Linked DNA regions of Homo sapiens. The protein of the gene in region 2 purifies or fractionates together with the protein of the main gene of each other region. This does not show direct contact. Each region holds a gene or a part of one and is shown on either strand. Other genes may lie near its edges. The genes, in order: UTP14A, DHX37 and NAT10.

The links.
Region 1: the proteins of DHX37 (region 2) and UTP14A purify together in Homo sapiens (affinity purification with mass spectrometry; 2 studies listed by BioGRID and IntAct, with this or other methods). This does not show direct contact.
Region 3: the proteins of DHX37 (region 2) and NAT10 fractionate together in Homo sapiens (co-fractionation; 2 studies listed by BioGRID). This does not show direct contact.

Annotation. Positions count from the first base shown.
Region 1 is NC_000023.11:129,908,394-129,916,587, reverse strand, and holds part of UTP14A (U3 small nucleolar RNA-associated protein 14 homolog A), read right to left. Parts: exon of another isoform or gene 8,035-8,194; intron 7,919-8,034; coding exon 7,854-7,918; intron 5,581-7,853; coding exon 5,438-5,580; intron 4,823-5,437; coding exon 4,667-4,822; intron 4,010-4,666; exon of another isoform or gene 3,897-4,009; coding exon of another isoform or gene 3,878-3,896; intron 3,279-3,877; coding exon of another isoform or gene 3,193-3,278; intron 1-3,192. UniProt on the Homo sapiens protein: May be required for ribosome biogenesis.
Region 2 is NC_000012.12:124,950,837-124,959,030, forward strand, and holds part of DHX37 (probable ATP-dependent RNA helicase DHX37), read right to left. Parts: intron 6,300-8,194; coding exon 6,193-6,299; intron 6,044-6,192; coding exon 5,855-6,043; intron 3,376-5,854; coding exon 3,251-3,375; intron 3,161-3,250; coding exon 3,044-3,160; intron 2,135-3,043; coding exon of another isoform or gene 2,115-2,134; exon of another isoform or gene 1,978-2,114; intron 1,735-1,977; coding exon 1,562-1,734; intron 1-1,561. UniProt on the Homo sapiens protein: ATP-binding RNA helicase that plays a role in maturation of the small ribosomal subunit in ribosome biogenesis. Required for the release of the U3 snoRNP from pre-ribosomal particles.
Region 3 is NC_000011.10:34,108,013-34,116,206, reverse strand, and holds part of NAT10 (RNA cytidine acetyltransferase), read right to left. Parts: intron 7,997-8,194; 5' UTR 7,982-7,996; coding exon 7,874-7,981; intron 7,466-7,873; coding exon 7,374-7,465; intron 4,156-7,373; coding exon 3,984-4,155; intron 2,492-3,983; coding exon 2,369-2,491; intron 385-2,368; coding exon 323-384; intron 1-322. UniProt on the Homo sapiens protein: RNA cytidine acetyltransferase that catalyzes the formation of N(4)-acetylcytidine (ac4C) modification on mRNAs, 18S rRNA and tRNAs.

The DNA.
Region 1 (8,194 bases), on a different chromosome or scaffold from region 2:
GAAGAGAAAATAGGAGCATAAGGGCTATTACAGAGACAGAATTTGCAGGTCTAGCCCCCTGTATAAGCTGGCGGAGAGGGAGACAGTGAAGGGGTCAAGAAGGAATCAAATGACTGAGGTTTCCAACCTAAGTGACTGGGGTAGGGAGTTATGCTGTTAACTGAGTTGCAGAATGAAGGGGGTGGTATAGGTTTTGGAAGTCTGGGGAAAGGAAATGCGAAGCTTACTTTGGACTGGACTAAGTTTAAGGTGCATATGGGGGACCCAGGTGATCCCTGCTAGTCACATGGAATATGAGACTGGAGCTTCAAAGAAGGGGTTGAGAGTGATAGTCGAAAGTTATGAAATTTTCACTCCTGTAATCCCAGCATTCTGGGAGGCCGAGGTGGGCGGATCACGAGGTCAGGAGATCGAGACCATCCTGGCTAACACGGTGAAACCCCGTCTCTACTAAAAAATACAAAAAATTAGCTGGGCGTGGTGGCGGGCACCTGTAGTCCCAGCTACTTGGGAGGCTGAGGCAGGAGAATGGCGTGAACCCGGGAGGTGGAGCTTGCAGTGAGCCGAGATTGCACCACTGCACTCCAGCCTGGGCGACAGAGCAAGACTCCGTCTCAAAAAAAAAAAAAAAAAAAAGTCATGGAATTTACAGAGCAAGAATAAAAAGGACTAAGGAAAGCCAGAGAGAGAAAATACCCAGAGTATATCACAGAAGCTAGAGGGGAGAGATTTTTAGAATGAAATGTGCCAATGGTGTCAAATATGCTAAAGACTAAGAGGGCTTGGGATTTGGCAATTCGGAGGCCCCTCACTAATGCCTTTTGAGAGAAGTTTCAGTAGGGCAGTAGGGGAAGAAGGTGAGAGAGAGGAGGCAGCAGTGGAGACAGACCAGCTCTTCCCCAAACACATTTCTCATCAGATAACAAGATTTGCCTCCCCTGTTAAAAGCTTAAAATTCAATTTTTTTGAAATTTTAATAAAATCAGTTTGTACACCCTAAGTTAAATTAGATCCAACAGGTGTCTTCACCATTGTTTCATAGCCTTTTTTTTTTTTTTTTTTTGAGACAGAGTCTCGCTCTGTCGCCCAGGCTGGAGTGCAGTGGCACGATCTTGGTTCACTGCAAGCTCCGCCTCCCAGGTTCATGCCATTCTCCTGCCTCAGCCTCCCAAGTAGCTGGGACTATAGGCGCCCGCCACCGTGCCCAGCTAATTTTTTATATTTTTAGTAGAGACGGGGTTTCACCGTGTTAGCCAGGATGGTCTCGATCTCCTGACCTTGTGATCCACCCACCTCAGCCTCCCAAAGTGCTGGGATTACAGGCGTGAGCCACCACGCCCGGCCCATAGCCTTTATTTTTATTTTTTATTTTTGAGACAGAGTCTCACTCTGTTGCCCAGGTTGGAGTACAGTGGCCCAACCTTGGCTTACTGCAACCTCCGCCTCCTGGGTTCAAGCGATTCTGGTGCCTCAGCCTCTTGAGTAGCTGGGATTACAGGCATAAGCCACCACGTCCAGCTAATTTTTTAATATTTTTTAGTAGAGACGATGTTTTGCCACGTTGGTCAGGCTGGTCTCAAACTCCTAACCTCAGGTGATCCACCCGCCTTAGCCTTCCAAAGTGCTGGGATTACAGGCGTGAGCCACCACATCCGTCTGGCCTGTTTCATAGACTTTAAAATGCTAAAGCATGTTGTGACTCTCCGATCTCCAGTAGGGGCATGCAGCATTTTCTAGCAATGCCTCCTCTCCTCCTCTTGTGAAGGCATAATGAGAGACTAAGGTTTCAAGGAGAATGCCTTGGGAAATACCACTGTAGACAGAGAATAGTGAGGAGAGGGGTGAAAGAAGTTACCTCACAGCATTTCTAGCACTTTGCAGTTTACAAATGCCTTCTCATGCATTATCCCACTTAATTATTTGCAGCTAAACAAAATTTTAGGGAGCTGGACCAAAACTATAGTACAGACTTTCGATTTTCTTTTCTTTTTTTTGGGGGAGGGCGGGGAAAGAGTAGAGGGTTTTTTTTTTTCCTCAGGCTGGAGTGCAGTGGCGTGATCTCGGCTCACTGTACCTTCTGCCTCCTGGATTCAAGAAATTCCCCTGCCTCAGCCTCCTCAGCAGCTGAGACTACAGGCATGTGCTACCATGCCCGGCTAATTTACATATTTTTAGTAAAGACGAGGTTTCACCATGTTGGCCAGGCTGGTCTTGAACTCCTGACCTCAGGTGATCCACCTGCCTCAGCCTCCCAAAGTGCTTGGATTATAGGCGTGAGCCACCGTGCCTGGTCTGAGACTTGATATTCAGTTTCTAGAAATCCTAATACAGCATATACTAGTTGTTGGTACTTTGCAATCTAAGTTGTAAGGAGAGACCTAGGAGTTGCTAGCCACAAAGCACCCTCTGAACTAAGCACTTCCTTATTTCTCTGTGCCCTACTAGCATAATTTCTCAAAAGTCAGTCTTAGAATGAATGAACGGCATGGTATATTCAATGTATGACATCTGAGCCTCACTCTATCTTGAAGAGGTTGTTCTATTCTTAGTGTAACCTCCTCCACTACCATCTAGTTTTTATTTTTTATTTATTTATATATATATTTTGAGACAGAGTCTCATTCTATTGCACAGGCTGGAGTGCAGTGGCACAATCTCGGCTCACTGCAACCTCCGCCTCCCAGGTTCAAGTGATCCTCCTGCCTCAGCCCCCCTAGTAGCTGGGATTACAGGCACACACCACCATGCCCCGCTAATTTTTGTATTTTTAGTAGAGATGGGGTTTCGCCATGTTGGCCAGGATGGTCTCAAACTCCTGACCTCAGGTGATCCACCTGCCTCGGCCTCCCAAAGTGCTGGGATTACAGGCGTGAGCCACCACACCCGGCCCCATCTCGTTTTTAATAACAAACTTGGCATTTTCCTGCTATCTCCAAGATTACACTGTCATTTGGAAAAAGCAAGGTGGAGGACAGTGTGTAGTAGCATGCTACCCTTCTTTTTATTTAAAAAGGAGGTAAACATGAATATAGAAATAAAACTCTAAGACAACAACAACAGCAAACTTATGCAAGTGGTTACTTCTGGGTGAGTATGGGGGTAAAAATGATCAGATGGGGCACGGGTGGAATCAAACTTTTCACTACATATCTTCTATGCTTTTTTATTTTTGAATCCTACAAATTGTATTACCTCTGATTTTTTTTTTCTAAAGTCTCCCTTCATCCTGCAGCCACACTTTAAACCTGATCTCTTTTTCATGTAGAAAAGGAAGCCTCCTAGAAAGAGAATGGTAGTGACTTCAGCAAAAACATCAGAAACAGCTTATCCCCATAATAAGCAACTACTCGCTCAATTTCTAGCTATTGTGGCAAGCAATGTTTACTTTGATTAGCTTTAATTAGCTCAACTTCCCAACGCCTAAGAAACTACCATTCTTGGGTTTTTGGAAAGTAAAGAGGAGAAGCACAAAGAGGGCATCTATTTAAGACTAATCAGCCCATTATAGACTCCATACCAATGGTGTATTGGAAAAGTAGGCTAGCTGTTCTAAAGCAGTTATTCGGACTAAAAACCGGACTTCAGGGACCAACATAGGATTTCCAACTTCTAATTTTGCCAAGAGCATAACTACCATTTCACCCCCAATCCCATCATTTACTACCACCATCATTTCATAGAAGAAAAGATATTTCAACACCATTAAAATAGAATAACCTCATAATAAAAAAGAACTGGCAACATTACACCCACCAAACAAACATACTTAGAATTATCCTTTTGCTTCAGACACAAACTTTGTTAGGGGTCAGTGTTTGGGAAACCCAGCTCTAAAACATCAACCCCTGCCCTGCAGCTCAGAGTCATAGTAAGTTACCTGCTGAAGTTCTAGTCATTGCCAGCAACACATTATATTTTAATGCGGTATTCCTGTACAAGCAAAGTTTGGCTTCTGTTGTTCACATATCCTCACTAAGGCATCATTAATGTTATCGAGTTCCTGATTTCCCTAGGATCAGAATGTGGCTTTAAATGCTTTTTAAAAACTGGGGTAAAAGAAAGAAAACATTATTATGTTCCTGCTATACGGGCAATCACATGGTTTAACACAAAAACATGGAAATAGCAAGTACTGTATACTACAAGCAGATGAAAAGTGACACAGAGACCGGGCGCATTGGCTCATGCCCGTAATCACAAAACTTTTGGGAGACTGAGGTGGGCGGATCATTTGAGGTCAGGAGTTTGAGATCAGCCTGGCCAACATGGTGAAACCCCATCTCTACTAAAAATCCAAAAAAAAAAAAATTAGCTGGGCGTGTTGGTGCACGCCAGTAATCCCAGCTACTTGGGAGGCTGAGGCAGGAGAATTGCTTGAACCCAGGAGGCAGAGGTTGCAGTGAGCTGAGATCGTGCCACTGCACTCCAGCCTGGGCGACAGAGCAAGACCCTGTCTCAAGAAAAAAAAAAAAAAAGTGATCACAGAGCTATTGTGACTGGCTATCACATGACTGACAATGACGATGGGCAACCCCTTCTTTCTGAGCACTAAGCTAAAATGACTTATGCTGGGGTTTAGCTTAACATGTCCAATCAAATCAATTGCAGGCTCTGAAATCTCCAACTTATAAAATCTCACCTTTCAGTTTCATTTTGTTGTACTCACCTTCCAGCCACTGAGCACATGTTCAATGGGAGCAATGGCTGGCTCCTCTTTCTCCAGGGGAAAAACCAGCTGCTCTGCCTGCCGGTTCTTCAGGACGACAGGGTCCCATTTGGAGAGGACTTGTGCGGTTTTATTGAATGCTACTTCTCTGTGGATCTGAAGCAGGCAAGGCATGTAAACGGAAAGAGCCACAAGATTAAAGCATCAAACCCAAAGGACTAACAAGAAATTAGGAAGCAACATTTCTTAGCCCAAGAAAGAATCAGGATGCTAGAATCAGGATGAAAGAATCAGGATGCTAGTCCTCTTGCTTCTCAGGACTGCAATTTCTCCTAGATTATTATTATTATTTAGATGGAGTTTCACTCGTGTTGCCCAGGCTGGAGAGCAATGGTGCAATCTCAGCTCACTGCAACCTCCACGTCCTGGTTCAAGGGATTCTCCTGCCTCAGCCTCCCAAGTAGCTGGGATTACACCACACCCGGCTAATTTTGTATTTTTAGTAGAGACGGGGTTTCACCATGTTGGACAGGCTGGTCTCGAACTCCTGACCTCAGGTGATCCGCCTACCTCAGCCTCCCAAAGTGCTGGGATTACAGACGTGAGCCACCGCGCCTGGCACTCCTAGATTATTTTTAATCTTATCCATAGTGGGGAAATCACAACTCCCCCTTCTCCCATTTTTCAGGTCTTTCCCTTCTTTCTATTACCCTATTTTCCCTTGTCAATTCAATTTCTTTCCCTTAATAGACCACCTTCTCTGTAGCTTACCCGTTCAATCTCTTCTTTGTTCAGAGGTAACTCCACTGTCTTCTTTGATTTGACTCTACTCAGTTGCTTTTTCACAGTGGCCAAAGAAGATGAAGTTTTAACAGGCTCAAGCAGATCTGCAAGGACCAGCTTTTCTCCTGATCCTGTGGAAAGGTCAAACTTTCTGGTCAGACCAAGAAGTGAGACAAGATCTCAATATAATGTAGGGAGAAGCCTCAGTAGAAAATGCCAGTAGATGGCAAATGTGCAGAGAAGCAAGAATAATTCTCTTACTTCAATTGCCTATTTCTAGCCATGCCAACACTATCACTCTTCTACATTCATCCCCAAACGTGTTAGGGGGTAGAAGATAGGGGAAAATATTTATTCAAAACTCATTTGCTTTTCTCCTGGTGCTTCTACTCTTGCCCCATTGCAATTCATTCTTCACATAACAGCCAAAAATAAAAACAGCCAAAGTGATCTTTTTGCTGTTGTTGTTGTTTGTTTTGAGACAGGGTCTCACTCTGTCACTTAGGCTGGAGAGCAGTGGTGCCATCTCTGCCTCCCAGGCTCAGGCAATCCTCCCAAGTAGCTGGCACTATAGGCGCGTGCCACCACGCGTGGTTAATTTTTTTAATTTTTTTTTTGTAGAGATGGGGTTTTGCCATGTTGCCCAGGCCAGCCTCAAATGGCTGGGCTGAAGCAGTCCGCCCACCTCGGCCTCCCAAAGTGCTGGAGATTACAGGTGTAAACCACTGTATCCAGCCCAAAATTATCTTTCGAAAATATAAACCACAGCATGTCATGACCCTGCTGAAAATCCTCCAGTGACTCCCCATTATACTTTGAATCTCATCTACCTAAAGGACATGGTCCTATGAGATCTAATCCCCATCTGCCTCTCTAACCTCATATCAACCCCCACCCTCTAGAATGCTTTTGTCACAGGGGCCTCTTTCCTATTCTTCAACATGTTGTGCATGTTTCTACCTTAGAGCCTTTGTGCTAGCTGTTCCTTGGCCTGAAATGCTTTCCCCAATCTTTGCATGGTTGACTTGACTTGTCATTCAGATCTCGGCTTCAATTTTGCCTCTTCAGGGGCCTTTCATGACCAACCGATCTAAAGTAGCCACTTAGTTGCTTTACTGCATCATCCTCTCTTATTGTCTCCCTTCATTAGAATGTAAACCCCATGAGCTCACATCTTATTCGCTACTTTAACCTTGGTATCTACAACAGTTCCTGATACTGCTACCTAGTAGAAACACAATAAATATCCACTGAATAAGTACGCTTGGAATACATTGTTATTTGCCCTAGGAGGCTACACCAGTGATTACTACAAATGCAAGACCCATTCTAGCTGCCTAAGTTGTGAACAGGGTGAAAAAGATTTGGCATCTAGACTCAGTATTAGGATAAAATCCCATGGCTGCCGCTTATTAGAGCATGTATTCTGAACAGGGGCAATTTTACCACCCCGCCACCCCAGGGTGAAAATTGGTTCTTTCTGGGAGAGTATGAAAAAAATCTTAGATATTACAATGTTTTGTGTCCCTCCAAGGCTCAACTCTGTCCAACAAACTCTTATTCCTTAGGACTTGATTTCCTGGGGAAGGGGCACAGGGGGAGGGATACAATGAGGAAAAAAATGTCTTGAGGCCGCGCACGGTGGCTCACGCCTGTAATCCCAGCACTTTGAGAGGCTGCGGCGGGTGGATCACGAGGTCAGGAGATCCAGACCATCCTGGCTAACACGGTGAAACCCCGTCTCTACTAAAAATACAAAAAACTAGCCAGGCGCGGTGGCGGGCACCTGTAGTCCCAGATACTCGGGAGGCTGAGGAAGGAGAATGGCGTGAACCTGGGAGGCGGAGTTTGCAGTGAGCCAAGATCGCACCACTGCACTCCAGCCTGGGCGATAGAGTGAGACTCTGTCTCAAAAAAAAAAAAAAAAAAAAAGGCTTGAAAGGCTCCTCTCAGGGGAGCAATAAAAAAGCAAAGGTTGAGAAATACTGTACTAGGCAAAGGCCCTTGAATAAGTAATGTGACCTCTCTGAGCTCTGGCTGAAGAGAATATTTGCCTGTCTCCTAACTCAAAGCATTGTTAAGAGAACTGAAATAAAAATGAAATTGTACAAATATGAATTATGACTAAGTTACTAAGAGGCAGCTGTCTTTATTCATGTCCATCTATCCTATAAGTATCTCATCAAACTCTGTAGGATACCTTGACCACAGCCTTCTAGGCTTTCTTTGAGAGATGGAAGAAACTGAAGGGCATCTGACTACACTTCTTCACCCACTCTCCCAGGTATTTATGGTATGAGTCATTAACCACATCAAAAACAGTTCCTAGGGGGGGTGAGGTGAACACAATGCCCTTGGAACTCCACAGGTTTCATGCATGGGTATCTTCCTTTGTTCAACTTACCTTCAGAACTGACATTGAACTCTGACACCTTCAGACTAGCCTCAGACCTCTCAGCCAATTTCCGCCTGAAATTAGGCAAAACGATATAATAGGAATGAATAAATTTTATGGGGGCTTGGGGTTGGGAGAGACAAACACTTCTCTCTTCAAACAGGGCTTTGGTTTCTTGTATTTCTTCTAGGGTCATGTTTTGTCATGATGCAGCAAGGAGATCTGTTCCTAACTTGGACTTGGTTGTCTAACCCTCATCTCTTCTCTTTATTACAAGGTAAGCATAGTGGAAAACATATTGGACTTAGATTCAAACACACCTGAACCTGTAACTTATGAGCCAGGTGACC
Region 2 (8,194 bases):
AGAACCCATGCCCAGGGGCTCCGCATACTTTCAACCCAGGAGAAGAATCTGATTATCCACTCCAGCCGCAAAAGTGGGAGAGTGCTCCATCTGCCGGGAAATGCGGCCCATCCACACGCTGGAGTCTGATCCAGCCGTGAAAAGGAAGGAAGTGCCGGGTGCAATGGCTCACGCCTGTAATCCCAACACTCTGGGAGGCCGAGGAGGGTGGATCATCTGAGGTCAAGAGTTCGAGACCAGCCTGGCTGGTTTCACCATGTTGGTGAAACCCCATTTCTACTAAAAATACAAAAAATTAACTGGGCATGGTGGCACACACCTGTAATCCCAGCTACTTGGGAGGCTGAGGCAGGAGAATTGCTTGAACCCGGGAGGTGGAGGTTGCAGTGAGCTGAGATCACGCCATTGCACTCCGGCTTGGGCAATAAGAGCAAAACTCCTTCTCAAAAAAAAAAAAAAAAGGAAGCACCGACACCTGCCATGGCGTGGATGGGGCTTGAAAGCATCACACTAAGTGCAAGAGGCCAGACATGAAAAGCCATGTATGTTAAGATTCCACTCATGCCAAATGTCCAGAACAGGCAGATCCACAGATGGAAAGCAGGATCATGAAAACGGGGGTGACGGGGAACTGGGGACTCACAGCTTACATATGTGGGGTTTCTTTGTTGGGTAATAAAAATGTTCTAAAGTTAACTATGATAATGGTTGCAAAACTCTGTGAAAATACTAAAACCCACTGAATTGAACACTTTAAATGGGTTTAAATGCAGGCCAGATGCAGTGGGTCACACTTGTCATCCTAACACTTTGGGAGGCCAAGGTGGAAGGATTCCTAGAGGCCAGGAGTTCAAGACTAGCCTGGGTAACACTGCTTGTAAGCCCAGCGTTTTGGGAGGCCGAGGTGGGCAGATCACTTGAGGCCAGGAGTTCAAGACCAGCCTGGCCAAAATGGTGAAACCCCTTCTCTACTAAAAATACAAAAATTAGCTGGGCATGGTGGCACACACCTGTAATCCTAGCTATTTGGGAGGCTGAGGCAGGAAAATTGCTGGAACCCAGGAGGTGGAGGTTGCAGTGAGCTGAGTTCGCACCACTATACTCTAATCTGGGCAACAGAGTGAGGCTCTGTCTCAAAAAAGAAAACAACAACAACAAAATTAGTCGGAGGTGGTGGTGTGCCCCCTGCAGTCCCAACTACTCAGGAGGCTGTGGCGAGAAGGTTATTTGTGCCTGGGAATTCGAGGCTGCAGTGAGCTATGATTGTGCCACTGCACTCTATCCTGGGCAACAGAGCGAGACCTTGTTTCTAGAAAACACAAAAAACCCCAAAAGAGTTTAAATGCTGTGTGAATTTTATCTCCACTAAACTGTTATTAAAAAAAAAAAGTTGGGAGAAACTAACCAAGGAAGATGTGATTCTACTGCAAGCCCCACTTGTTCCTCAGTGGGGACCCACAGCTGAGAGGGAACAAGCCTCCCCAGACCCTGAGGGCCCAGCCCGCCTGCCCCTCACCAGGTGCCCCAAGCTACCCGGGCAGGGAGGCGGTGGGGGCCGCACCTTGTAGGCGTTCCTCCACTTGTCCTCCAGCATCTCCTCGCTCTGGACCCTGCGGGCCAAGTGGTCCCCCAGGCCTGCCGTCACGATCTGTCGCAGGTAGGTCACCTGGCTCTCGGTGGGCGGCTGCATCTTGGGATCCACGAAGAGCTCAGCCTCGGGGCACACGGCATTGACTGAGGGGAGAACCAAGAGTGAGGTCGGTGGTGGCAAGGCCCGGAGCCAGCTCTGCCCTGACCTCCTAGAAAGTCCCAACCATGCTCAGTGCTCTAGCCTCAGCCACCTGCTTGTCTCAACCCCTCCCCAGAGGCCACCAGCAGGACCCAAAGCCCCCAGCAGGCAGGATTGCAGCCGCCCCCCCATTCCCTCCTTCTCCCTTGGGACAAAGCCCCACATCCTGCCTGGGCAGCAGAGCATTCTTCGAGGAGACAGCCCTCCCCTAACACCCAGGTGGCCTCAGACTCAGTTCTGGTCCATGATGTGAAGAAGGAAGTTGCGGCTGGAATTCCTGGGAACGTTCAATACGGGAACAGGACAGCCGGCGGGTGCCCTGGCCTCATCCTTCCCTTCTCTTGCCTGGAAGGCAGAGGTGACTAAGCCTCCAACTACCTCCTCAGCCCAAGAGGTGACCTTAGGATGGAAGGCACAGCGAATGGCAGGAGGATGGCAGCAGAGAAACGCCCTGGGCTGCTGACTCAAGTGACTTCTCTTCCTTGCAACAATAAAGGTCTAATGTCACCAAGCCACTGTAACCAGCACTGTCTGGAGGCTGACTGCAATTCTAAGCTGCTGCACCTGGAATGGGGCTGCTCTGGAAAGCCACAGCCAGAAGGACACAGAGCATGGTGACAGGGCCACCACCATGCACCTGGCGCTGGGAGAAGGATCGGCCGGAAGAGAGCCATCAATTCTGGCATCAAACCTTGGGATCTGCTTAAATGGAAGGCAAATTCTCCACTAGCCTTGGGTGCAAGAACGTGGCCTGCCCAGAAGAGACCCAGTGTCCACGCTGCCCTCTCTACGCATCGTCCTCTTGCCATATGTTGGAGGACATTTCCTTCCTCTCAAGCTTCCCTGGGTGTTGGTGGCAGGAAGTATTTGTGCTGCTGAGCTGAGGTAGAGTCCAGGGCAAGGCCTCATCCTTCTGCATGAGAAGGGTCTGGGGGACATGTGGGAGGGAAGAGGGGTCCAGGCCACAGCGGTGATGGAAAATGGCAGGGGGTATCGCCAGGGAAAAGGTGAAACCGAGCGACGACCTGGTGGGGGAGGGTGCAGGCTGGCAGCTCGAATCTGTTAGTGCCCTGCTCATGTGCACATTCCCTTGTTCCTGGAAAAGCTCCCCAAGTATTGATTTAGGGTTATAAATACATTTTGGTGCGTAGCAAGTTTGCAAACGTGGACTCTATGGATCACTTTTTTAAACATTTCAAGTGCCCAGGTCAGGTTGCCCGCCGGGTGCAGCGGCGTGCCGGCACGGGGCCGTACCTGCGGTGGTCAGCTGGCCCCGCAGGCGCCGGATCTCCATCATGGCTTTGTACCGCAGCCCGTTGGCTTCGCAAAACTGGGGTGTGCAGCTGGCATACTCACAGGCTCCCACGGCGCCTGGGGAACGAAGAGGGGGCATGCTCTCTCTCTGACCCATCCCAGACCTGGGTGACCCTCCCGCCACCCTCCAACGGGCAGGGCACAAACCCAGCAGCACCATGAGGTCGCCGAGCTTCAGAGAAGCCCCCTGCCCTGCCCAGGTCCTCTTCATCTGGGCCACCCGGGCCCGCTTGCTCTTCAGCCTGGTGAGCTCCTCGTCACTGGCCGCTGGTCTGCAAACACACATACATACTGTCTGGGCTGGGGCCTCGGCTGCGCTCAGGGCCTCAGCGGGGGGAACTCCTTTATTCATCGGGACAGGCTCAGAGGCCTTGTGGGGTCACTGATGAATGTAATTAAGGTATTAAGGTCCAGCTCAAAATTCACCATTGGCAGCCACCGCTGCACTGTTGTTCTTTTTTTTTTCTTTTTTTTGAGACAGAGTCTCGCTCTGTCGCCCAGTGCAGTGGTGTGGTGTGATCTCGGTTCACTGCAAGTTCCGCCTTCCGGGTTCACACCATTCTCCTGACTCAGCCTCCCGAGTAGCTGGGACTACAGGTGCCCACCACCAGGCCCGGCTAAGTTTTTGCATTTTTTGTTTAGTAGAGACAGAGTTTCACCGTGTTAGCCAGAATGGTCTCGATCTCCTGACTTCGTGATCCGCCCGTCTCGGCCTCCCAAAGTGCTGGGATTACAGGCATGAGCCACCGTGCCCGGCCACTGCACCATTTTTAGGTAATAAAAAACTCTGCAAACTGCTTAAATAGCTGCCAAGGGTGGACTGAATAAATGAATGATGCCAGTGGCTTCCAAACCTGAAAATAATACTAACACTTAACATATGTGTCAGGCACGGCTCAAAGCACTTTGCTTGTGTTAACTCATTTAATTCTACCAACAATCCAATTATTATCATTATCATCATCCCCATTTTCCAGATGGAGAAAATGAAGCTCAGAGTGGTACAGTCACTTGCCTAAGGTCACACAGCTCAGAATGGCAGAGAGAGATTCGAACCATACCTGAGCTCTCAGTCACCACGCTACAGAGCCTTGACACTAGCATCACGTGGGAGTCTTAGAGATGCTGGGACCAGGAGATCTGGGCAGAGGCCAAGACACCTGGTTTTCAAGACCTTACATGTAATGGTTAATTATGTGTCCACTTGACTGGGCAAAGGGATGCCCAGATAGCTAATTAAGCCTTATTTCTGGGTGTTTCTTTGAATTGGTGACTGGCATAAAGCTACTGCCCTCCCCCAATGTGGGTGTGGGCCACATCTGATCCACTGAGGGCCCAAGTAGGCAGAGGAGGTGTGACTTCGGGCTCTGCTGACTGCGTGAGCTGGGTCTTCCCTGCCCTCGATGCTCCTGGTTCTTGGGCCTTCAGACCCCAACTGAAACTGACACCACTTTCTGTTTCTCCAGAGAACCCTATTATTCTCCCCCAAGGGATTCTGACGAATAGCTGGGATTACAGGTGTCCATCACCATGCCCGCTTTTTGATTTTTAGTAGAGACAGGGTTTCACCATGTTGGCCAGGCTGGTCTCAAATTCCTGACCTCTCAAGTGATCTGCCTGCCTCGGCCTCCCAAGTGCTGGGATTACAGGCGTGAGCCACCATGCCCGGCTAAAGCTGCTTTTGAAGTTCAGATGCACTGACCCTGAAAAGATACAGGACCATCTGATCTCATTTCCTCAAATTAAAACTCTGTCCGTGCAGAGCACAGGGAAACGTCTGGAACTGCACTGGCCAATACAGTGGCCACTAGCCACATGTGGCTGTTTAAATTTAAACTATTAAAAATAAGTAAGGTTTTAAGTCAGTTTGTTGCCGTAACTGCCACATTTCACAGGCTGAGGCCACGTGTGGTTAGTGGCTGCGGTATGGAATGGCCCATGCAGTGATGTGGCCTAAAGCAAAGTTCCTGGTTAGGGTGGGTGGGACCGGGGAGGGGAGGTGGTGGAGGATAAACAAAGAAAAACCATCCAGATCTCAACAGATTCCCCAGTGTCCACCTAACTGCCTTCCCAACTAGTGTCTGCTCTGTCATCTGACAAGATGGTCCAAACACAGGCAGATTGACCCTAAGGGAAGCAGCAGGCTTTGCACAAGATGCAGAGGCTCACAGAGTCGATGAAGTGACATTGTGGGCCTGCCTGTACCATTCACAGTGGACGAGAGATGGTGGCAGCAGAAGCCTGGCTCACAGCTGAGGGAGAGATGGTCAAAACTGATGGCGTGAAAGGCGGTTTCAGGAGGAATGATGTGAACGCTGAAGACTTACCAAGCCCTTGAGAAACTCAAGTTGCTTCCAGAAATCTCTGCAGAAATGACCCCTTTTATCATTAAGCTGCCAAAGGCAGATCTACGCAATAGGATGCCAGGAAATTATTAAATAATTGTTCATTCTAAGAATTAGCATGTAGTCATAATCTATAAGTAAATTTTGTTAAATACACAATGCACTAAACATACTTTCAACATACTTTCACAGTCTTAGTGTCACTTTTCTTTTTCTTTTTTTAGAGAAGGGTCTCACTCTGTTGCCCAGGCTAGAGTGCAGTTGCACAATCTCAGCTCACTGCAACCTCTACCTCCTGGGTTCAAATGATTCTTCTACCTCAGCCTCCTGAGTAGCTGGGACTCTCAGCCCAGAGCCCCCGTCGGAACTGAGCTTGGCCCTGAGTGCCCAGCCGCCAACCTCGCACCTGTCCAGCTCCTCAAACAGCTCCCGCACCGTCATGCTGGCCACGATGGTGATGGCATAGGGCAGGCAGCCGTGTTGTCGGCTCAGTGCCAGCATCTTAGCGTAGCGGGGTGCCACGGGGAATGTGGCCATTGTCCGGCCCAGCGCAGTGATGGGGCAGCTCAGCCGGTTCTCCTGCAGTTGCTTCACCCTGGAGATGGAGGTGGTGGTGGCAGTGCTCTGAGAGGAGCTCTGGAGCCACAGCTGGGAGGCCCCACGCTTGAGGCAGCTCAGGCCCAGCAAAAGGGAGAGAGGGCCCTGAACGGGGCAGGAACTGGGCTCTGCATCTCTTGGCCTTACCTTTCTGCTTTCTGGGGCGGTTGCAGGGCACCCAGTGCGATCAACAGCTCCTCGGCGGCAAGAAGGGCTTCCACGGAGGGGGGCGTCGGGAAGGGGAAGTTGATGACCTGGGACACAAGGAGACGTGGCAGGGACAGGGTGAATGCCAAGAACAAGTCCGGTGCTCCTGCTCCGTCTGTGGCAGGCACTCCCTCCAACCCCTCTCTCCGGGCTCAGCTCATGCCAGTGGGGACACAGGGGCCTGGGGCACTCTCAAAGGCCAGGTCCCAATGGAACCCCAAGGCCTCCTTTACTCACTCACCTCATCCATTCACTCAAAAACACGTCCCAAGCACTGGCTAGGCACTGAGGGCTGTGCTTTGCCCCCGCTGGGTGCTTTTTTCGGTTTTTAACAGACTATTATACTCATGAGGACTGAGCGTCATTTGACCAGGAGGGGCCACAGGTAGTCAGTGAGGCATAATACGAATAAATTGGCCTGGTGCGGTGGCTCACGCCTGTAATCCCAGCACTTTGGGAGGCTGAGGCGGGTAGATCACCTGAGGTCAGGAGTTCGAGACCAGCCTGACCAATATGGTGAAACCCCCATCTCTACTAAAAATACAAAAATTAGCCGGGTGTGGTGGCGCTCGCCTGTAGTCCCAGCTACTTGGGAGGCTGAGACAGGAGAATCATTTGAACCTGGGAGGTGGGGGTTTCAGTGAGCCGAGATCACACCACTGTACTCCAGCCTGGGTGACAGAGTGAGACCCCATCTCAAAATAGTAATAATAACGTGAATAAATTTATCACAATAGCCAAAAGATGGAAGCAACCTGTGCGTCTCTGAATGGAGGAGTGCATGAACAAAACGTGGGCCACCCATAAAATGGACAATGATTCAGCCGCGAATAGGAGTGAAGCAGCGACACGCGCTACACCACGGATGGAGCTTGAGAACATCATACTCAGGGAAAGACGCCGGGCACAAAGGCCACGCATTGTAGGATTCCATCTGCATGAAATGTCCCAAACTGGCAAATCCATGGAGAGGAGTGGGCACAGGGGCCAGGGAGCTGGGAGGTGGTGACAGATAAAGGGTACATGCTTCCTTTCTGGGGTGATGAAAATGGCCACGGTGGTGATGTCCGCACAACTTTGTGAACACACTGGAAACTACTGACCCACACACTTTCAATGGGTGACTGTGTGGTGCCTGAACTCTATCTCAATAAAGCTAGAGGCGGGGTGGTGAGCCTGCAGCAGGCACGCAGGTAAGGAGGCAATGCTAGGAACCCAGGTCTGGGGGAAGGCAGGAGGGGGCCTGCTCTGGAGCTGACTCAAGAGCCAGGGGAAGCCACTGCGGAGTTTCTACAGAGTGGACTTGATGTCACTTGTGGGAGGCACTCCCGACAGTGCTCCCAGCCACACTGAGCTCCCAGCCCAGCCCTGACACTTTTTATCCACGTGACCCACAGTCAGGCCTGTCTCAGTGTCTCAGGCTCCTCATCTGGAAAATGGGGTGATAACACTAGTAACTCCCTCCTAGAGTGGCTGGGAGGATAACCTGAGGTCACACGTGCTGAACGCCCAGCACATACTTGGCATCCATGATTCTTTTTTTTCTTTTTTTTTGTGAGATGGAGTCTTGCTATATCGCCCAGGCTAGAGTGCAACGGCGTGATCTCGGCTCACTGCAACCTCTGCCTCTTGGGTTCAAGAATTCTCCTGCCTCAGCCTCCCGAGTAGCTGGAACTACAGGTGCCCACCATCACGCCTGGCTAATTTTTATATTTTTAGTAGAGACGGAGTTTCACCATATTGGCCAGGCTGGTCTCGAGCTCCTGATGTTGTGATCCACCCGCCTCGGCCTCCCAAAGTGCTGTGAGCCAATGCACCCAGCTTTTTTTTTTTTTTTTTGGGACGGAGTCTTGCTCTGTCTCCCAGTCTGGAGTGCAACGGCATGATCTTGGCTCACTGCAACCTCTGCCTCCCAGGTTCCAGTGATTCTCCTGCCTCAGCC
Region 3 (8,194 bases), on a different chromosome or scaffold from region 2:
GAAATATCTTCTGGGAAGCAGTGATCCAGAAAAATCACTCATTTAAAAGATGAGTAAGCTAAGAACCAGAGAGAGTAACCTGGTTTAACTGAGCTGTCAAGGCCAGCAGCAAGACAAAATTGAGGTTTCCTGGCTCCAACTTTCCACCACGTTTCACTGCTTCCAGTTAGTCTCACAACTGCTGCTGCTGTCAAGAATCTCATCATTTTTGGAATATTGTACTACTTTCCCCAATATAAAAGCAAAGTTTTCAGTTGAGTCCAAGATAAAAATGTCCCTCCCAATGTGGCTGCCCCACAATTGGGGGGAACTATAGAATTACCTTTCATTAAATCTTCCCACCACATCCTGATGGGCCTCAGTTCTGTACCTGGAATGCACATCCTAACAAAGAAAGACAACATCCATTAACAAAGGCATGCAAACAGTGCTGAGGACCAGGGTCCAAATACAAAGCTCTATCCAAGGAGACATGGGCAATCTTGCTGGAAACAAAATCACTCCCACACACACTGCTGTGCCAAATGGTATTTGCTGAAACTGGGATCAGACACTGAATGCAACGTTGCTTATTAAAATCTTTCACTTTTCCACATTTTTCCTAGCATCCTAAGTTATATTCATTTATTTCATAAAATTGGCATGCTGTGTGCCAGATATGCTGTGCATACACTAATGAACAAAGCATGACCTCTGTTCTCATGGCACTTGGAGTATAATGGATGGAGGAAGAAAAATTAGTAGATAAATACAAATTTTGACAAATGCTACATATGAAATATAGACTGCACGGATAGCAAGTGGGGGTCACTTATGTAGGGTAGTGAGGGAGGGCCTCTCTGAGATAAGCTGAGGCCTGAAGGGTAAGTAGGTAGCTATGTCAGAGGGAGAGGAAGAACAAACTGATGTGAGCACAAAGTCATTCATTCACTCTCAACTATCTAAGGAATGCTTACTAAATGCCAGGAACTCTTCTAAGATCTGGAAATGCAACAGCAAAGAAAACTAACTCTCTGTTCCCATCAAATTTATTTACTTATTTATTTATTTTGAGACGGAGTCTTGCTCTGTTGCCCAGGCTGGAGTGCAGTGGCGTGACCTCAGCTCACCGCAACCTCCGCCTCCTGAGTTCAAGCAATTCTCCTGCCTCAGCCTCCCTAGTAGCTGGAATTACAGGTGTGCACCACCACACCTGGTTAATTTTTTTTGTATTTTTGGTAGAGACGAGGTTTCACCATGTTGGCCAGGCTGGTCTCAAACTCCTGACCTCAGGTGATCCGCCCACCTCAGGCTCCCAAAGTGCTAGGATTACAGGCGTGAGCCACTGTGATCGGCCCTCCAGTGAAATTTAGAGACTAGTACAGGAGGACAGACAAATAATAATAATAACTTTAGGTCATTGTCAAGTGCTTTGAAGAAAAATAAAGCCGGTTAAGGAGTGACAGGCGGAGCTGCCTACTGTAAACAGGGTGTGAGGAAAGACCACATGGATGAGGTGATATCTGAGCAGGGGCTTGAATGCAATGAGGAAGCGAGCCAGGCAGAGGTCCAGAGGAAGCACATTCCAGTGGGAACAGCAAGTGCCGAGGCCCTCGCAGGAGTGTGTGCTGGGCATGTCTGAGGACATTTGAGGAGGCCAAAAGGGCTGTAGTGCAAGTGATGAAGGGAGAAGTAATGACAGGAAACAGCCCCTAAGATTTGAGGAAAGTCCATTTCATCAGATAAATGCAGCTCAGGAAACCCTAAGTCCAATCCGACCACCATTACTGAGCTGCTGGACATGGGCATGACTTAAAACTTGCCTCTGAACACTGACTTGGCAACGCTGATAAAGTGAGGAGACCAGCTCTGCATCAGGTGAGACATATCCCTAATTCCTCACCATGTCCTCAGTCAGTGTCTTTTGCTTTGGGAGAACACAATCTCTGCTGGAGTTGAAATTCTTGCCAAACTGGAGTACAACTGGCAAATGTTCCTTCGTCATCCATTAGGATAAGGGCCAGTGAGCAGTCTGCACATGGTCCTTTTTTTGCAATACACAAATTTAGGCACTGGCATTGCTCCTTGTACAATATCATTCCAGAAAATTTAACTACATAAAAGCTGTATCATATCTGAATCTCACTGGTGTAGAATTTGCAAGTGCCTGAAAACAAAGGTGAAATTCAGAGATTCCTAGGCATACTCATGGACCCTGAGATTTAACTGTAGTGACTTTTTCATTAGTTAAAATCAAAGAGCTCTTAGCCCAGAGGCTGTGCTGACTACTCACTGGAGCTGCCCAACAGGAATTCTTTAAAGAAAGCAGAACACAGCAAAAACAGATTTACTTGAACCCTCACAATTAAGTTAAAAAACAGATGCTTACCATAGTCACTGTGTACAATTGCTTGAGTGAGTTCATGGTCCGTAGGAGGATGACCACTAGCCCACCACCTTCCACTGTTTCTACAGTCCTGGCCAGCAAGTTTGGAGTTAAGGCTTCAAAATCCTGGAAGAAGGGGGCGTTAGAAAGGGCTGGTCATGCAAATAGCAACCCAAAGGACTTTTTTTTTTTTTTTTTTTTTTTTGAGATGGAGTCTTGCTCTGTCGCCCAGGCTGGAGTGCAGTGGCGCAATCTTGGCTCACCACCCACCTGAGCCTCCCAAAGTGCTGGGATTACAGGCATGAGCCACCGCGCCTGGCCCAACCCAAGGGACTCTTAACCAAAAGCCAGGTGATAAGGCAAAAAGAAGACTTCAGAGCACAAAGCCAAGACCATACCTGTTCCCACCTTGACTTCCCAGGATACACACACAGGGGTACCACAGAAGAGGGCCAAACCCTCGAATATACGAATACCTGGTTTTATATGCCAAAAACGGGTCTCTTATTAGAGACGTTGTTAGTTTTATATGTCAAAAATGTCTCTGATAAAATCCTATTTGGAAACAAATTTTCCAACCTTCACTGATTCATACTTGAATTTCAGAAACATCTTACATTTTCTGACATTTATAGCTCAAACCTGTTTGACAAAACTATACTACATGGGGGAGCTACTGCTCACAGGAGTCATTATTCAGGCAATTGATCATGGCAGCAAGTAGAAGACCACTCCCTACCAATCAGTGATAACCCAGGGCATTTCCCTGAGTAAAGGTGAAAATGAGGCATAATGCCCTCTTTCTTGGCCTCCAAGGTGAGATGCAAGCCAGCAGTATAGGAGACAACCCATATTTTGCAAGGTATGTAACTTGACATAATAATGGGCACAGTTGTAAGTGTATATGATAAACACACAAAAATGTGAGGATTTGTGCTTAATTTTGTCTTGTCTTTTTTGGGAGAATGGGGAAGGGAGGTGGCACAGGAATCAAAGAAACAAAGAATAAAACAAAGACCACCAGTGCTTACACACACATGCACACACACACACACAAAGTGAAACTTAGTCTATTAACTTGCCAGGCAAGAGAATACACACCAGTGCAGAAATTCACCAAGTAGTCTCTGAGAGGTAAAGTGAGGGGTTTTTAAGGGCTAGAAAAGGGGAGAGGGGCCTTCATGGTGGGTATGCCACTCAGGCACTCTGGACAGGACATTTAAGTGCATTGGTCTATATCCGGTTGGAAAACAAGTCCCATTGCTCACTGGACAAAAAAAGTCTTTGGTGAATGCCAATAAGGACCTAGGGTCCTAGAGGCACTCAAAGTCTCTGGCATTTGCTTTATCAGCTTTAGCTAGTTAGAACCCGTTATAATAACTCATCACTTCAGTTCTGGTGTCTCTAGACAAGTGCTGATTTAAAATTCTCTTTTTATATGGGGTAGGTGACCGAGTGTACTTTGGAAAGTGGCCAGGACTTCCACTAATAATGCTTGGGCATAGGGAACATGGGACTCTCCTCTCCTTACTGTACATCTGTTCCCAGTGGAAAGCCAGGCAGCCCAAGCAACCCTCAAGACTCTGACTTCAATCACAGGTTAGAGGAAGCCACCCACCTGCAGCACACACATGCCGAAGGTATTGCCCAGGATCTTGTGGGTCTCGTTGTAGTAGCAGTAGCGAATGTTTGTGGCTGCTATGAAGAGTTCAAAGGGGTCGTCCTGCTTTATGTTCAGTGTTCCATTCTTTATTTTCTTCTGCAGCTGTCGCATTCTTTTCTTCCGGTGACTGCAATCACACACCCCCAATCCCATGAGAGCCAGTTAACCAGAGCAGCTAAAGAGCTGGAACCAGGGGAAAGGCTCAGTGATCACCCACTTAGACTTTCAGAGCTAGTAGGGAACTTGAAAGTGTGAGGCCCACTTCAGGTGGAGGGCAGTGGAGAGGCATGAGAGGCATTAGAGTGCTTAAGGGCTTGGAGTAAGTGATAAGTCTATGTGTGAACTCTGCTATTTTGCCCTGTGACCTTGAGCAAATACTTTGCTTTAAAAGATGGGTAATAGGGTAGCTAACCCTCACATTTGGCCAAAGCCAGAGCTTGAAACCAAACCTGAGTGGCCTCATTATCTCAGTCATAAGCCAATGCTTCAACTACACTGTGCTGTTCCCCAGAGATCCTAGGAAAGACAAGGTGATGGCACGTTACTTTATTCATCCTTCCTAGAGGACTTCCTCCCCGAGAATGTGGGATTATGTCTTCAAGGGCAGGTCTTACATAAGACAATAATGATACAGGACACAGGGATCAGAATGGAATCTGGACATCTCTAAGGAATTCCTGAATTTTTTTGGTCTTAAAAACCCTGCATATCCAGTTGCTACTTACCTTTCCTTTACCAAAAGAGAGAATTAGAATGTTCTAGAATGGAGGATTACAGCTGATCAAAATTTTACCATAGTTCTCTAACTTAATAGCTAGAACAAAGGCCTTTCCTCCTGTGGGCCTCCACTTCCTCATCTATGAACCAAGGCAGTGGGTGAGTTTGTCTCCACTGTCCCTTCTGGCTCAGGCCTTAAGCCCGTGACTTACAAACAGGCATTAGCTTGAACACAATGCTCTGCCAGACTAAGACAGGGGTGGGGCAGAAGAGCTATAAGAGGTACAAAAGTAGATTTTTAGAAGTGAAGCCAGGTGGTTTAAATTCAAAAGGCAAATCTGCCCAGAAGACTTTGAACTGCCTAATTCCACACCCATCTCATATTTGCCAAATGAAAAATAGTGAAAACCAGAAGCCCTAAAAACTTAAAATTCTGGGATAGACAACAGGCCTTATTCTCAATCTGTATTAAAAATGCCTACCTCTCTAAATATGAGAGTATATACAACAGAATACCAATTATGGTTCAAAACTACATCCCTGTAAGATACACCTAGATGCTGACAATGCCTAGACAGTGAGATGTTTTTTATTTTCATCTTTGGGTTTTCTGCACTTTTCACATTTCATCAGTAAGGCTCTTATGATTGTCTGGTTTCCTTTAGGCAGAATCCCTTCACTTTAAGACCACAGGACAGGGGCAAGTTTAGCCTCTGGTACTAATTTAAATTAAAATAATTTTAGAGCCTGTTAACAACACATCCAACTCAATGTATACTGAGTACCTATGATAAACATGCTAAATCAGTTAAAAGTATGAAAATACAAAGATAAATAGAAGAGGGCTCCTAACTAAATAAGCTTATCACCTGAAAGTAAAAAAAAAAAAAAAAAAAAAAAAAGGGAAAGAAAAAAAAATGAACGTAAGTCACAGTATGTAAGTGACTTTACCCTAAAGCAAAAGCATCCATTGGCAAACATTATAGGAGAAGGACAAGTGCAGAGGAAGGTAGAGGAACCACCAGGTATGACTGGGGGGCTCAGGAAAAGTTTCACGGAGGAGGCAGGCCCTGAGAAACAGGATTTCAATAGGTGATACCGGGGAGGTGGAAGTGGCATTCCAAGCAGAGGAGACAGCATGAGCAAAGAAAAGGAGGGAGGTTAGTCACAGCATAAAGCAACCAGAGCTGGAGACAGGCTTTCAGAGTCAGATCGGAGATGAGCACATTTGGAAATTAGAAGAGGCTCAAGGACAGAATCGCACAAGCCAGCTAGGTTTAGAGTAAGGAGACGAGATCCAGAGAAAGAGAAGAGCTCCGGAAGGTGGTCTGAGTAAAGACACTGAAGCCAAAAAAGGAGACTATTTCTTAGGTGATGCCATGGTGGTTATCTGCCAAGGAACAGCACTACCCACCCCATCCAAACTTCTCCAAACACAAAGTTGTAGGTAGAACTTCCAACTTTGTATTATGCTATGACCAACCCCACCCTCCTCTGGCCAGGTGTGGGCATTTTTCCACCAGAATTTTGGGAAAAAGTCTGATTTCCACATGGCTGGGCCTGAAACAAGGAAAACGCAAGTGTTGTTTCTGCTAGGGGGACAACAGAAAACAGAAAGCTGGTCTGCAGTGAGAAAGTTGGTCTGCATAGAGCAGATACACTGAGATGACAAACTGAGCTGGGAGCATTAGTACTGTGACTCTAGATCACCCGTGAGCAGAGCTGAAATCTTATCCCCTTGGATTCCAGGAAATATCCCATATACCTCAATGAAATCCCTTTGTGCCAAATTGTATTTGTGTTGAAAGTATGTTATCTATGACTAAAAGTCTTGACTACCACAGCTTCAAATAGCCAACTGTCAAATACAGCAGTGAACTGGTAGAAGAAGAGGCAGAGCTCTGAAAAGGAGGAGAAAGAGAGAGAAAAGTTGACGCATTAGGCATCAAGCTGCTGGGGATGTCTAACTGCACAATTTGATCACAATTATAGAAGCAGAAACCAGACTGCAAAAGTGGCTACTAAGTGCAAAAGATTTCTGTTTTAAGGTATATGGCAATAAAAATCGGGGGAAATGCTAACCTGAGAGAGAAATCTGGGTATGTAAGTAATCAGCTTTTGATAATAGAAAAATCTGAGCATGTTTACAGGAAGGAGAAAGTTTCCAAAGGGTATTGGGTGGCCAGCAGAGGAAAGACAATACAGGTCCTGAAAGAGGTGAGGGAGGAGACACAGGGTACATAAAGGGGTTTTCCTTGGACATGGGATGAGGCATATACCCCCTCCATGAAAGAAGGGGAGAAAAAGAGAGAGAGTGAAAAGTGGAATAAATTTGAGGTAGGAAAGACAGTTTGAAGGAACTTGCAATGAGATGGGCTTAATCAGCCTAGAAAAGCAGGAAGGAAAACCATATGCAGAAGGCAAGGCATTGGATTGGTGACTTAAAAAGCATGAAAATGATTTGAAACTTATTTTCAGGAATGAAGAAAGGATATCAGCTCCATTTGTCCTCAGAGATAGCACCTCCACTAAAGACCCTTAAAAAATATGTGAAGGAATCATTTCCTGGCATTTAACTAATGAGCAGGAATTGTAAGTTGGATAAAACACATGAAGAGCCCAGCTTACCTGCTAAACCCCAGCTCTTTCTTATAACACCACAGCACTGAAGGCCGAGCCTTCACAGTTGCTTTGGATAACATGTGATGAAGTATTACCACCTGCCAAACAAAAAAGTCACAGAATTTCAGGCACAAAAGAGACTTTAGAGACCGCCAGGCTTAAGACCTCATTTGACGGATGTGGAAACTAAACTGAGGGCCAGGGAAGGGAAGTGCCCAAGGTTCTAAGGCGAGCAATGACCAGGTTTGGACTAGAAGCCAGGTCACATACAGTTCACTTTGTGGTCAACCCACCACCCCAGGCTTCAAAAGGTATTAGCTTGTCTGCGAATCAATCTAAATACAGAGAATTCACCACTTCCAGGAAATAAAGAAAGGTTCCCACTAGGCATCTTACCAGCCAAAGAGATCTTAATGCCATTATGTCCTGAAACAGCAGAGTGCTTAAACATGCTGATTCTTTGGACAAGATAAAAAGTAATTCAGGAAGCATTTACCAGGCCATACCTGATCTTTTCCTCGATCCCCAACTACAACAAAGAGAGATCTTTGCCGCTCAGCTACTCCATTCTCAATGAGAATCCGGATTCGGTTATCCACCTTTTTCCGATGCATGGTGAAAAATTATTACTAAAAGAGAAAGAAATACAACTGGCCATGCGCACTAGATTGTCTAAGGAACATTAGCTGGCTGCCTTTTGTGGGGCCTGGGACTGTGCTAGGCATATCTATAAGTATTGTCTTACTTAACCCTCTACGAGCTCCACAGGAAGACATCAGCCTCTAGTTTTAAACTCAGGAAACCTTAGGCTTGGGAGGTGAGAAAAC